2 separate regions of the Homo sapiens genome follow, and region 1 is linked to region 2. Evidence: fine-mapped expression QTL. A gene starts in region 2. The other region holds a variant in brackets. All regions are shown on one strand. Distances are from middle to middle.

Region 1 (5,372 bases), 810 kb before region 2:
AGAACTGTCTAACAATGTGCAGAAAATTGAAACTGGACCGATTCCTTATACCTTATACAAACATTAACTCAAGATGGATTAAAGACTTAAATGTAAAACTCAGAACTATAAAAACCTTAGAAGAAAATCTAGGCAGTACCATTCAGGACATAGGCACAGGCAAAGATTCCATGAAAACAACATCAAAAACAATGGCAACAAAAGCAAAAATTGACAAATGGGGTCTAATTAAACTAAACAGCTTCTGCAGAGCAAAAGAAACTATTATCAGAACAAACAGACAACCTACAGAATGGGAGAAAATTTTTGCAACTTATCCATCTGACAAAGGTCTAATATTTAGAGTTTACAAAGAACTTAAACAAATTTACAAGAAAAAAAACAACCCCATTAAAAAGGGTCAAAGGACATCAGCAGACACTTCTCCAAGGAAGACACTTGTACAGCCAACAAACATGTGAAAGAAGCTCAACATCACTGATCATTAGAGAAACACAAATCGAAACCACAGTGAGATACCATGTCACACCAGTCAGAATGGTGATTATTAAAAAGTCAAGAAATCACAAATGCTGGCGAGGCTGTGGAGAGATAGAAATGCCTTTACACTATTGGTGGGAATGTAAATTTGTTCAACCATTGTGGAAGACAGTCTGGTGATTCCTCAAAGACCTAGGAGCAGAAATACCATTTGACCCAGCAATCACATTACTAGGCATATGCCCAAAGGAATATAAATCATTCTATTATAAAGATTCATGAGCATGTATGTTCATTGCAGCACTCTTCACAATAGCAAAGACATGGAATCCACCCAAATGCCCATTAATGGTAGACTGGATAAAGAAAATGTGGTGCATACACACCATGGGATATTATGCAGCCATAAAAAGAAACAATTATCATGTCCTTTTCAGGGACATGGATGGAGCTGGAAGCTATTATCCTCAGGAAACTAATACAGGAAAGGAAACCAAATACTTCATGTTCTCACTCATAAGTGGGGCCTGAACAATGAGAACACATGGACATAAGGAGAGGAACAACACATACTGGGGCCTGTTGGGAAGGGGCGGGGAAAGGGAGAACATCAGGAAAAATAGCTAATGCATGCTGGGCTTAATACTTAGCTGATGGTTTGACAGGTGCAAGAAACCACCATGGCAAATGTTTACCCATGTAACAAACCTGCACATCCTGCACACATACCCCAGAACTTAAAAAAAAATAAAAAACCTTGGCTGGGAAATAGAAAAAAAAAAAAAAACAAAGAATCGTGGGTAAAAGCTAAATGAGGAATGGGATTTTACATTGTGTCAAAGTACAACCCATATTATATTTATTAATAACAAAGAAAGAATAATTTTACAGTGAAGAAATCTGGCAGGCACCATTTCAACCAAGTGATCAATGTTAACACCGTCAGTAACATGACAGACATTGTGTGCCACTTGAGAGAATGCATTGCAAAGAACACAGCATTCGTGGTATTCCCTCCATAAAATATATCATTGATGTCTAATCATGAGGAAACTTTGGAAAACTTAAATTGAAGAACATTCAAAAAATGACTAGTCTACAATCTTCAAAAATATCAGGGTCATGGAGGTCAGGGAAGACTAAGGAGGAAGAGCATATGGGAGGTTTTTGTACTCTTCTTGCAACTTCTCTGTAATTTGGAACTGTCAAAATAAAATATTAAACAAATCTATTAGCACAGAACAATAGGTTCACAGCAGGCACTAGAGGAGGGAGGGTCCAGTGGAGCTGAGGAGGACCCTGTGCCAGAAGAGAGACCTTAAGGCATCATCAGCATTTCTCACAGTGTCACCCAACAAAATCAACCCTCTTGTGAACTTCCAGTGTTCCATTGCAATAAGTGGGTGATGGGCACTAATGGTGGTGCTGGCTGGGTAAAGATGCTTTCCAATTTCTGCAAATTCCCCATTTGGAAGAGTCAGATAAAAGAAGAGAATTCAGTGAGTACAGGCCAGGGAAGCAAGAGGAGAAGGGCACAGCAGGCGAACGAACCAGGGTCCAAGAGAAGCTTCAACCCAAGCCGCTAAGCAGACAGCAGCCCTGATGAGAAAAGCAGGAGCACAGAGGACACGTCAGATGGTAGTGAAAGAGCTTGCAGCTGGGGATCCCTGCAAAGGAAAAGAAGTACAAGGTAGGGGCTGAGAAGCCACCACCAGATAGCCAGGGTGCAAAACTGGGGGAAAGGAGGCCAGATCAGAGAACCAAAGTGAAAATATGTAAAAACGAAAGACAGAAAGTAAAAATATATCAAGTTGATGAGAAGCAAAAGGTCAGCAGGGCCTCACAGAGATAGGTGGATTATTTATTGGTGTTAGAAAGTGAGATTACAGAAAATTGAAATAAATTCTGTGCCTGAGAGTTTATGGGAAAGGCTGGCAGATGGGAGACAGAAATATAAATTCCAGGAAGGAAAAAAAGGCACAGCTAGGAAAAGCAAGGGAGTGTACACGTTGATAATATAAAGATTATACTACCTGGAATGTGATAAAGCATCAA[A/G]TTTGGAGAAACCATAGTCTAGTGTTCAAAATTGGCAGGGAAAAAGTAGCGACATTTCTCTTTAAAATTGCACCCTAAAGACAAGAAGCTGTTCTTACTCTGTAAAGAGGTGAACATGCTGTGCTCAAAACATCATTCTGGAATCAGAGGAAGTAAGAAGAAAGAGGGAAAGCCTCATGTGACATTCTTAGTCAGGAACCTCGGTCTTCTGATCCAGCTGGTGGGAAGACACACAGAATTTACCTCCACAGCCTGAGGGCATTCATCTTAGCATCCTTAGTACCTGATACAAGAGCCAGTCACACAGCAGTTGCTCAATAAGTTTTTTCACTATCTGAAGGGTGAAAGTTTTCCCCAAAGGATAAAGGCAAACAATGAAAAAAGGGAAGAGTCTCTATTATTAGGTGAGATCTCTGGGAGAGTACCAGGAATAAATAATTATGGAGTAAAAAGTTACATTAAGGCTACCTTTTAGGATTTCATTTTAAAACATTTTGAAACAAACTTGCAAAGATTTTAGTCAGCAATTTACCACCATAAATTGTTTCTGTAAAACTCCTAGCAGATGCCAATGAATGTACCTAGAACAACTCCTACACATTCTTCTGTGAAATTCATTTCCCTGGTCTCTTTCCCCCTCCCGGTCCTAGCTTAGGTTGGAAGTCATATTACCAGGATATCCAGATGTAGCAGCACTAGTGGTCGCCCACCCGCAACTGCTCAGTCTACCCCCAAAGACTCCTGCAGACAGTTGTCCTTCACGCTGACTGCCCACTGTAGCCCCTGCCTAAGCAAGAGTCTGGCTGGAGAACAAGTCCAGCCAGAGTGCTCAGGCAGCAGAATGCTTGAGAGGTAGTGTCCCTGGAAGGAACTTCCAACCAGCAAGAACCGAAGATGATGGCTTAATAGCCTAGTGTCCACACCCTCCGCTGGGGGCAATTCTGAGATGTACTTCTCACAAACTCAGAGGGTCCTGAGCATGGTTGAGCTGTGGATGCCACTGTCGTTACCAAATTCTGTACTGATCTTCTTCCTGCCTCACTGCTCCACTGCTTCACAGTGCTCCCTGGGACCAGGCTCCCAAATTAACGACCTGCATTCAAACCCTTATATCATAATCTGCTTTGGGGGAGAACCAAACTAAGACATCAAGGATGGGAATGTGACCTAAACAAGGGCAATCACAGTCCTGCCTTGAATGTTTTCAGATTAGAGCTAAGGGAATAAAGCCTCTTCTTGTTGGAGAATCTGGGAAAATGAGAATAGTTGCTGGTGATAATCAGGGTTCCGGTTTGGCAGAGAAAGCTGGTGTATTAGTTCATTTTCACACTGCTATAAGGAACTACCTGAGACTGGGTAATTTACAAAGGAAAGAGGTTTAATTGACTCAGAGTTCCATATGGCTAGGGAGGCCCCAGGAAGCTTACAATCATGGCAGAAGGGGAAGCAGGCATGTCTTACATGGCAGCAAGCAAGAGAAAGAGAACATGTAAAGGAGGAACTGTCAAACACATAAAACCATCAGATCTCGTGAGAACTCACTATCACAAGAACAGCATGAGGGAAACCACCCCCATAATCCAATTACCTCCCATCAGGTCCCTCCCTCGACACATGGGAATTATGGGGATTACAATTCGAGATGAGGTTTGGGTGGGGACACAGATCCAAACCTTATCAGCTGGTATGGGTGAATGAATCCATATGCCCATGCAGGTGTATTACATTGTACATTCTCAGCAAGGTCAGTAGGATGTGAGGGGTTACTTCCCCTATTTCTCTAAGTTTCACTAGAGACCCCAAGGCTCAATTTTAATAAAACAGATGTCAGAGACCCTCCTCCAACCCCATTTTATTGAGCTCCTCAGCTCAGGAGATTTAAAAAACGCTTTGCCAAATATAAGTTGTATAGGGAAGAAGGCAAATAATGCATTGAGGGTTCCAAAAGTTGTAGTGCCTCAATGTGCCACCACTACACACTCATTAGAGCAACTCAAGTTAAAGTGCTGGTGAGGATGTGCAGCATCTCGGACTCCTAAACACTGCTGGAAGGGATGTGAAACAGCACGACCACTTTGGAAAACAGTTCAGCAATTTCTTAAGATGTTAACTATATAGGCATCATACAACCCAACCATTCCATCTCTAGGTATTGATCCAGAAGAAATGAAAGCATATGTTCACACAAAGACTTGTATGTGAATTCTGATAGCAGCTTTTTATGTAATAACCCCAACCTGGAAGCAACCTAAATGTAAGTATGGTACACCCATACAATGGAATACTACTCAGCAGTAGAAAGGGACAAACTTTTCAAACACACAATAACCTGGATGAATCTCAAAATAATTATTCTAAATGAAAGAAGAGAAGCCAACCCTCCCACCCCCTCAAAACAGAAAACCAAACCAGACTGATTCCATTTACACAAAAATCTAGGAAACATAAAGTGAGGAAGCAGATCAGTGGTTGCCTGAGGACAGGGGTCAGGGAGGCATGGAGCACAGAGTGGCATGAGAAGACCTTTGGGGTAATGGATATGTCATTATCATGATTGTAGTTTTAGTCATGCGTGTTTGTGTATGATAAATCCATCAAATTATACATCTTAAGTATGTGCAGTTGTTTCATACATCAATTATGCTTCAATGAAGCTATAAAAGTGCTGGTGCATATATTTTGAGAGACAGTTTATGTGCCATATATTCCCTCATAACCTCCCCTCTGAGGACAGAGGTGCATCCCCCTCTTTTTCAGCGAAGTGAGAAGGACTTGAAAGGACCCACTCAGAAAGTTTGATATATGTCCTCTGGAATTTGAGAGATGAAGAGGATGGC
Region 2 (5,372 bases):
ATTGAACTTGCCATGTGCCTTGCACACAGGGCAATAAACATCTGCTGTCTGATCAAGGTCAGGTTTACCATGATAAGCAAACTTCCTTCCAACATTATCGGAATTCTGGGTTTATTTTCCACGAAGGCCAAGATGGAACCGAATTAATCATAACTATTTTCTGTGCTATTTTATCACAGCCTAAGTGCTTGGCTCATACAATCATCTTGTCCTTACTCCAGACTAGGAGTCAAAAACTGGTCTGGTGAGTTTACTTTTTCTTCTCATATCTGGGCCATACAAACACAAATTTTACTACATATACATGACTATAACACCTCATAACAAAAAAAGAGTAAGTGAAATGAACAGCCACATATCCAAGTGGATACCATCACTTGGTGACCCAGAGCTATATAATAAAGCTACAGAACCACTCAGGAAAAGAGCATCAGCGAGAATGGTAAGAATTTAATACAAAATCTCCCTATATATACTGTCTGAATTTATTTAACAGGCTCCTCCAAGAAGATAAAAGGGGTCACTGACAGTCCATCCTGTTGTTTCCATGGAGGCTTTAACTTAAACAACTGCAGACAAATTTCTCTTAAAGGAAATGTATTCCCACTGTCCTTCAATACAGGAAAATGACAACCCTTAGTCAAGTCTAATTAAAATTTTTCCGGCTGAAACATCTGTAACAGCGGCATGGGAAGCCAGTGAAATGGTCAGTTGCATGTACACAACACAAACACCACTAGTTAAAAATACTCCCTTAAGGCCGGCCACAGCAGCCTTACTGCTGCAGTGAAACGGAGAGCCCCACACAACTCAAAAAACCAGTTCTCAGAACCACTTGCCCTGTTCTGCTTCCAATGTAGACATCTAAAGGAAGCATTGCCCAGAAAACCCAATCCGTAATTTTAATAAGCATAATTTACGGAAGAGTCAACTACTGTGTGATTTCTCCTCTGACTGTCATGGGAATCCCTTCCTTTCCTTGCCCCCTTTCAAATACAGCATCTACCAAGATGACCCCAAGGAAAGTACTTTCCTCTAGAAACAACCAGAATTGATATTGCAGGGAAAGGAACGGGCTTCTCCTCTTATCCCACTCGCAACTCCTCCCCTTCTTCCCCAAGGAACTCTTCTCGCCTCCCAAAATCTGCCTCAACAATGGCCCAAGATTCCATTTAACCACGTCCTCTCCTTTGGGGCAGAAATCTCTGGGAGTAGGGGCAAGGTAGTTTAACCACGAACGGGGTGGGGACTAAACAACCCTAGCACCTCTAAGGTGCCCCCAGGAGGTCTTGCCAAGGAGTCTTCCACAGGGAGAGTCATCCTGCCCGTTGTTCTGGATCTTGAAACTTGGGAGACCCACACCAAAGGAGGGAACCGGTTCCTTTACCCTTTAAGCGCGTCGTGTCCTCCACCGCCTCTTCTCTTGGCCCGACTGGCTCTGGTTTCCTTCACGTTCCCAGCCTCCAAATTGGCGTCCGCCCCATGGCTCGTGTAGGACGCTAAAAGCACGGTAAATCCCAGGGCGATCTCCAGCAGACGCCCTCGACGCATGATGCCGAGCCGCCACCGGCTCCCGCCGCCTCTTGCCGCGCCCGGGGCTCGGTCTGCGGCCGCCGCTGCGCCCTGAAGCGCACCGCGCCGCCGGGGTCCCGCTATCCCGCCGCCCGTCCCCCGGGCCGGGCTCCTCCCGCCTTCTCCAGGCGCTGCTCCCACTTCAGGCGGCCCCTGCCAGCTGCAACACAGAGACAAATCCCCGAGGCGGGGAGACTTTCAGGGCATCGGGATGCTGAAGCCTCGCGGTCCCCATTCCCAAGCCCAACCCGTGCGCCGCCTGCGCGTGGCGCAGTTAATTTGGGTAAGGGAAGACCGTTTGGTCCACAGCTGGCTGGAAAGCCCAGGCCCCCGGCGGCAGCAGCCCCGGCCGATCCCTCGGCCTCCCGGGCCCCGCCAGAAGAGCGCGGCGCAAAGTACCCATATCCCCAGCGGTCCTAAGCCCCGGGCGAGCTCTCTGGGTTTATTTTTTTTAGCGGCACGAATTGCGCGCGATGCGCGCTCTGAACGCCCCACTCCTCAGCCTGCCCTCTCCGCCAGGCTGGAAGCCAGCCGCGCCGTCCCCGCCGACTCCGGGCGATGCCACCGCCCCCCGAACATCTGACGCGGAGCCCGGCACCAAGAGCCCCGGGCCAGGAAGCTGTCAGGCAGGGGAGGGCCAGCGCCAGCTGTGGACGTTCCGGGACAGCCCCTCACCCCAGTCCCTGTCCCTGCCCTCGGCGCGGCGCAAACGCAAAAGCCTCCGTGGCCGCAGCTCCAGCCCCGGTGGCCGCCCGACCCCCGTCGGGACCCCGGCTGCACCCACTGGAGAAGCGGCGGCTCCGACTCCCGAGGAGGCGGCGGCGGCTGCTCCCAGTCGTGGCCGCTACAGCCACTGCTCGGCTCCGCTCGCAGCTGTCCCAGCTGTGGCTCCTGTCCGCTTGTGGCACCCACAGTCTCTGCCGCGGCTCCCGCAGCCCCCTCCTTTCCCCACCTCTTCAAGTATCGTCCGCGCAGCGGTTTCTCGCGAGAGAAATACTTTTTTTAAAAAAAGAAAGAAAAAGAAAATGACACCCCCTCCTTCGTCGCCCTCATCACCACCCCACCCCCCGGCCCCATCCATCCTCCCTTTCCACTCCCCTTTGCCAGCCTCCGCCTCGGTGCGGGGCCTCTCGCTCGCAGGATTAGCGCAGTGGGAGGAGGCAGAGGTGATCAGGTCCTGCCCGGCCTGGGACTTTTTGTCTTGAGGTGGGGAGGGGAGAAATGGGAAGAGGTGGAGTAGCGGTTTTAGCCCGCTCTGCGGCTGCGAGGTTTAGATCCGAGATTAACCTCTCCCGCGATAGGTGAAGCCCTACCGGAGCAGAAAGCTGTTCCACCTGCACCAAGAATGCGCGCTGGAGACGGTTGCCCCGGAGGCCCTGGCCCGAGAGAAAACCAGTCCCCGCTGCCCGCGCCTCCCGGTAGCGCGCTCCCTGCGCCTCTCCCGCCGGACACTCAGCAGACGCCGGAGGCCGGGAGGCTAAGACTGGGCGCGTCGCAGGCCGGGACCGCGGCAGAGGCTGCTGTGCCGACCGAGGAGAGGGCTCTGCCGCCCCCACTTGCCCTGGGTGTCGAGAGCCCACTCCAGACGCGGCTCTTCTGAGGCTCAATTCAAGCCACCCAGGCCTGAATCCAGGGTGCTCTCTCTAAGTCGGTGTCCAACCCAGGGGCCTGTAAATGTTGGAACCTAGGATGTAGGATGGGAGCGGTGAAGGGATGGTCCTCTTGCCCAGCCCAGATTAAGACTGGGGTTCATCTGGAGGACTCTACTTACACCCTCCCGGTCCCCTCGCCCTCCCCCACACACAGCTGCCTCTCCCCAGGATATGCGCGGCACAGTGAATTTAGTGGCTTTGAAAGGTATAGTATTTGTGGCATCCTTATATGGATAATGCCCAATGATGCCTGCACCCTGTAACAGTTTAGGAAGGCCTGAAGTCGCACACTGGGTCCTGGCTGCTGTAACTGGAGACCCCCAGAAGATCCCCTGCAAGCAGCCACCAGCCTGCTGTCAAGCCAATAATAAAAGCTCAGCACAAACAGGTACCCTGGGAATGTATCTTGTTGAAAGGGATTTTCCTTATTTGTAACCGTTTGTAAAGGGGCCCAGACAGTAGGGTAGAGAGACCTGGGCAAGTTATTCAACTTCTTTCCAAATACAAGATGGGACTTGTAGTGTCCACCACACAGGGTTGTAATGGTGATGATGGACATGCTGAACTGCTGTGATACATGAAGATGAAACAGAAAAACTGTGGGAACTATGAGCTGATCTAAAGCCATAGTCCTGTAAGTATGTATGTGGTGTACTTTAAGGTCTCACCTGCAAAAGGTCTCTTAGCAGATTCATGAATGAGAGCCTTGGTCACACACTCCTGGCTGAGTAAAGGAGATCATTCATTCAAGATGTTTTTACTGAGCACGAACTGTGTACTACTTAGTGCATTGTTGAACTAGACTTCAACAATTTTAACAAGGCAGGTTCAACAATTTGAACACGACTGACTTCAACAATTTAGTGAAAAGGGCAGAAATGTGTCTCCCCTCACACAGCAGGTAGTCAACAAGGAAAGGCAGACTTGAAACAAATAATGGACCAATTGTTAAGCGCCAAACAGGATAAGTACTGGGTGCTTGCTTGGAGGATATATAACAAGGGGACTTGACCTAGGCTAGGGCTGATCAGGAAAGGGATCCCTGAGGAAGTGATATTTAACTTAAGTCTAAAACATAACTAGACTCTACTTAGGATAGCAGTTCTCAACCCTGGCTATGCAGTAAAATAATAAGAGGCTTTAAAAAAATTCTGACACCAGGATGGGCATGGTGGCTCATGCCTGGGCCTGTAATCCCAGCACTTTGGGAGACCAAGGCGGGTGGATCACTTTAGACCAGTAGTTCAATAGCAGCCCGACCAACATTGTGAAACCCTGTCTCTACTAAAAATACAAAAATTAGCCAGGTGTGGTGGTGCATGCCTGTAAATCTTGCTACTCAGGAGGCTGAGGCACTAGAATCGCTTGAACCTGAGAGGTAGAGATTGCAGTGAGAGGAGATTGTGCCACTGCACTACAGCCTGGGCAGAACAGAGTGAAACTCTGCCTCAAAAAAAAAAAAAAAAAAAAAAAATCTGACACTGACACCAGGCCCCAACACCCAGAGTTTCTGATTTGAGTAGTCTGTAGTGGATTCTTCACATGGATATTTTTTAAAGCTCCCTGGGTAGGGAGGGGTAAGGAGGTAATTCACACTGGGAAAAGGATCTGAGCAGAGGGACCATGGATTAGGAGAAAGCAGGGCTGTTGGACATCCAGAAAGGCCTTGTCCTGCCCACCAGTTTTCTGGGCTGCTCTGCACCCACAGGGGACTCTGGAAACTGCATGCTTTCCTTGTACTCCAGCAGCATGCAAGACATGCTGTGCCCTTTCTCTCAGAATCTTACACTCAGTGACATGTTGGTCAGCAGCAACCAAACACAAGCCTTTTCTAAGGCTTCTGCCCAGGAAGTAAAGGCCAAATCCTGGTGCCCTGCAAGTCCCCTCTTCCAACATTTCTGGACATTTCTATTATTTCTAACTCAAACTGCCTTCCAGGGTTTCACCTCCAAGGGAGGGATTTGGATTAAACGTTTTTACCTGGCCTTTGCTTTCCCCGGCAACCTCCTCTTTATTCATTGGCCTCTTTCTCCAATAAAGGAAAGATTCTTCCTTCATATTGGGTGGCAGCTCCAAGCCATATACTCCCCTCTTTGAGCAATAAGTCTCATGTTCTGACCACAATGGTGGAAGATTACAGGGGAAGGG

What was found. PIP is the estimated chance that this variant, and not a neighbour inherited with it, causes the effect.
Region 1: its variant is the best candidate, but not a certain one, in a credible set for the expression of FBN1-DT in aorta (GTEx, PIP 0.73).

What each region holds. Positions count from the first base shown.
Region 1 is chr15:47,831,497-47,836,868 of GRCh38, forward strand. All of the region lies in intron 2 of LINC01491 (long intergenic non-protein coding RNA 1491), which reads right to left. Among named protein-coding and RNA genes, the nearest start is that of LINC01491, 12 kb to the right of the region's middle. The variant A/G (reference allele first, on the strand shown) is at 2,536.
Region 2 is chr15:48,643,219-48,648,590 of GRCh38, forward strand. FBN1-DT (FBN1 divergent transcript) reads left to right here and starts at 2,587. Exons shown (of 2, transcript NR_183872.1): 1 at 2,587-3,612. It overlaps FBN1 (fibrillin 1), which reads right to left and starts at 2,491. Exons shown (of 66, transcript NM_000138.5): 1 at 2,357-2,491; 2 at 1,388-1,732. The coding sequence starts at 1,551. RefSeq lists silencers at 1,466-1,515, 1,616-1,745, 2,156-2,335, 2,376-2,455 and enhancers at 2,529-3,053, 2,566-2,655.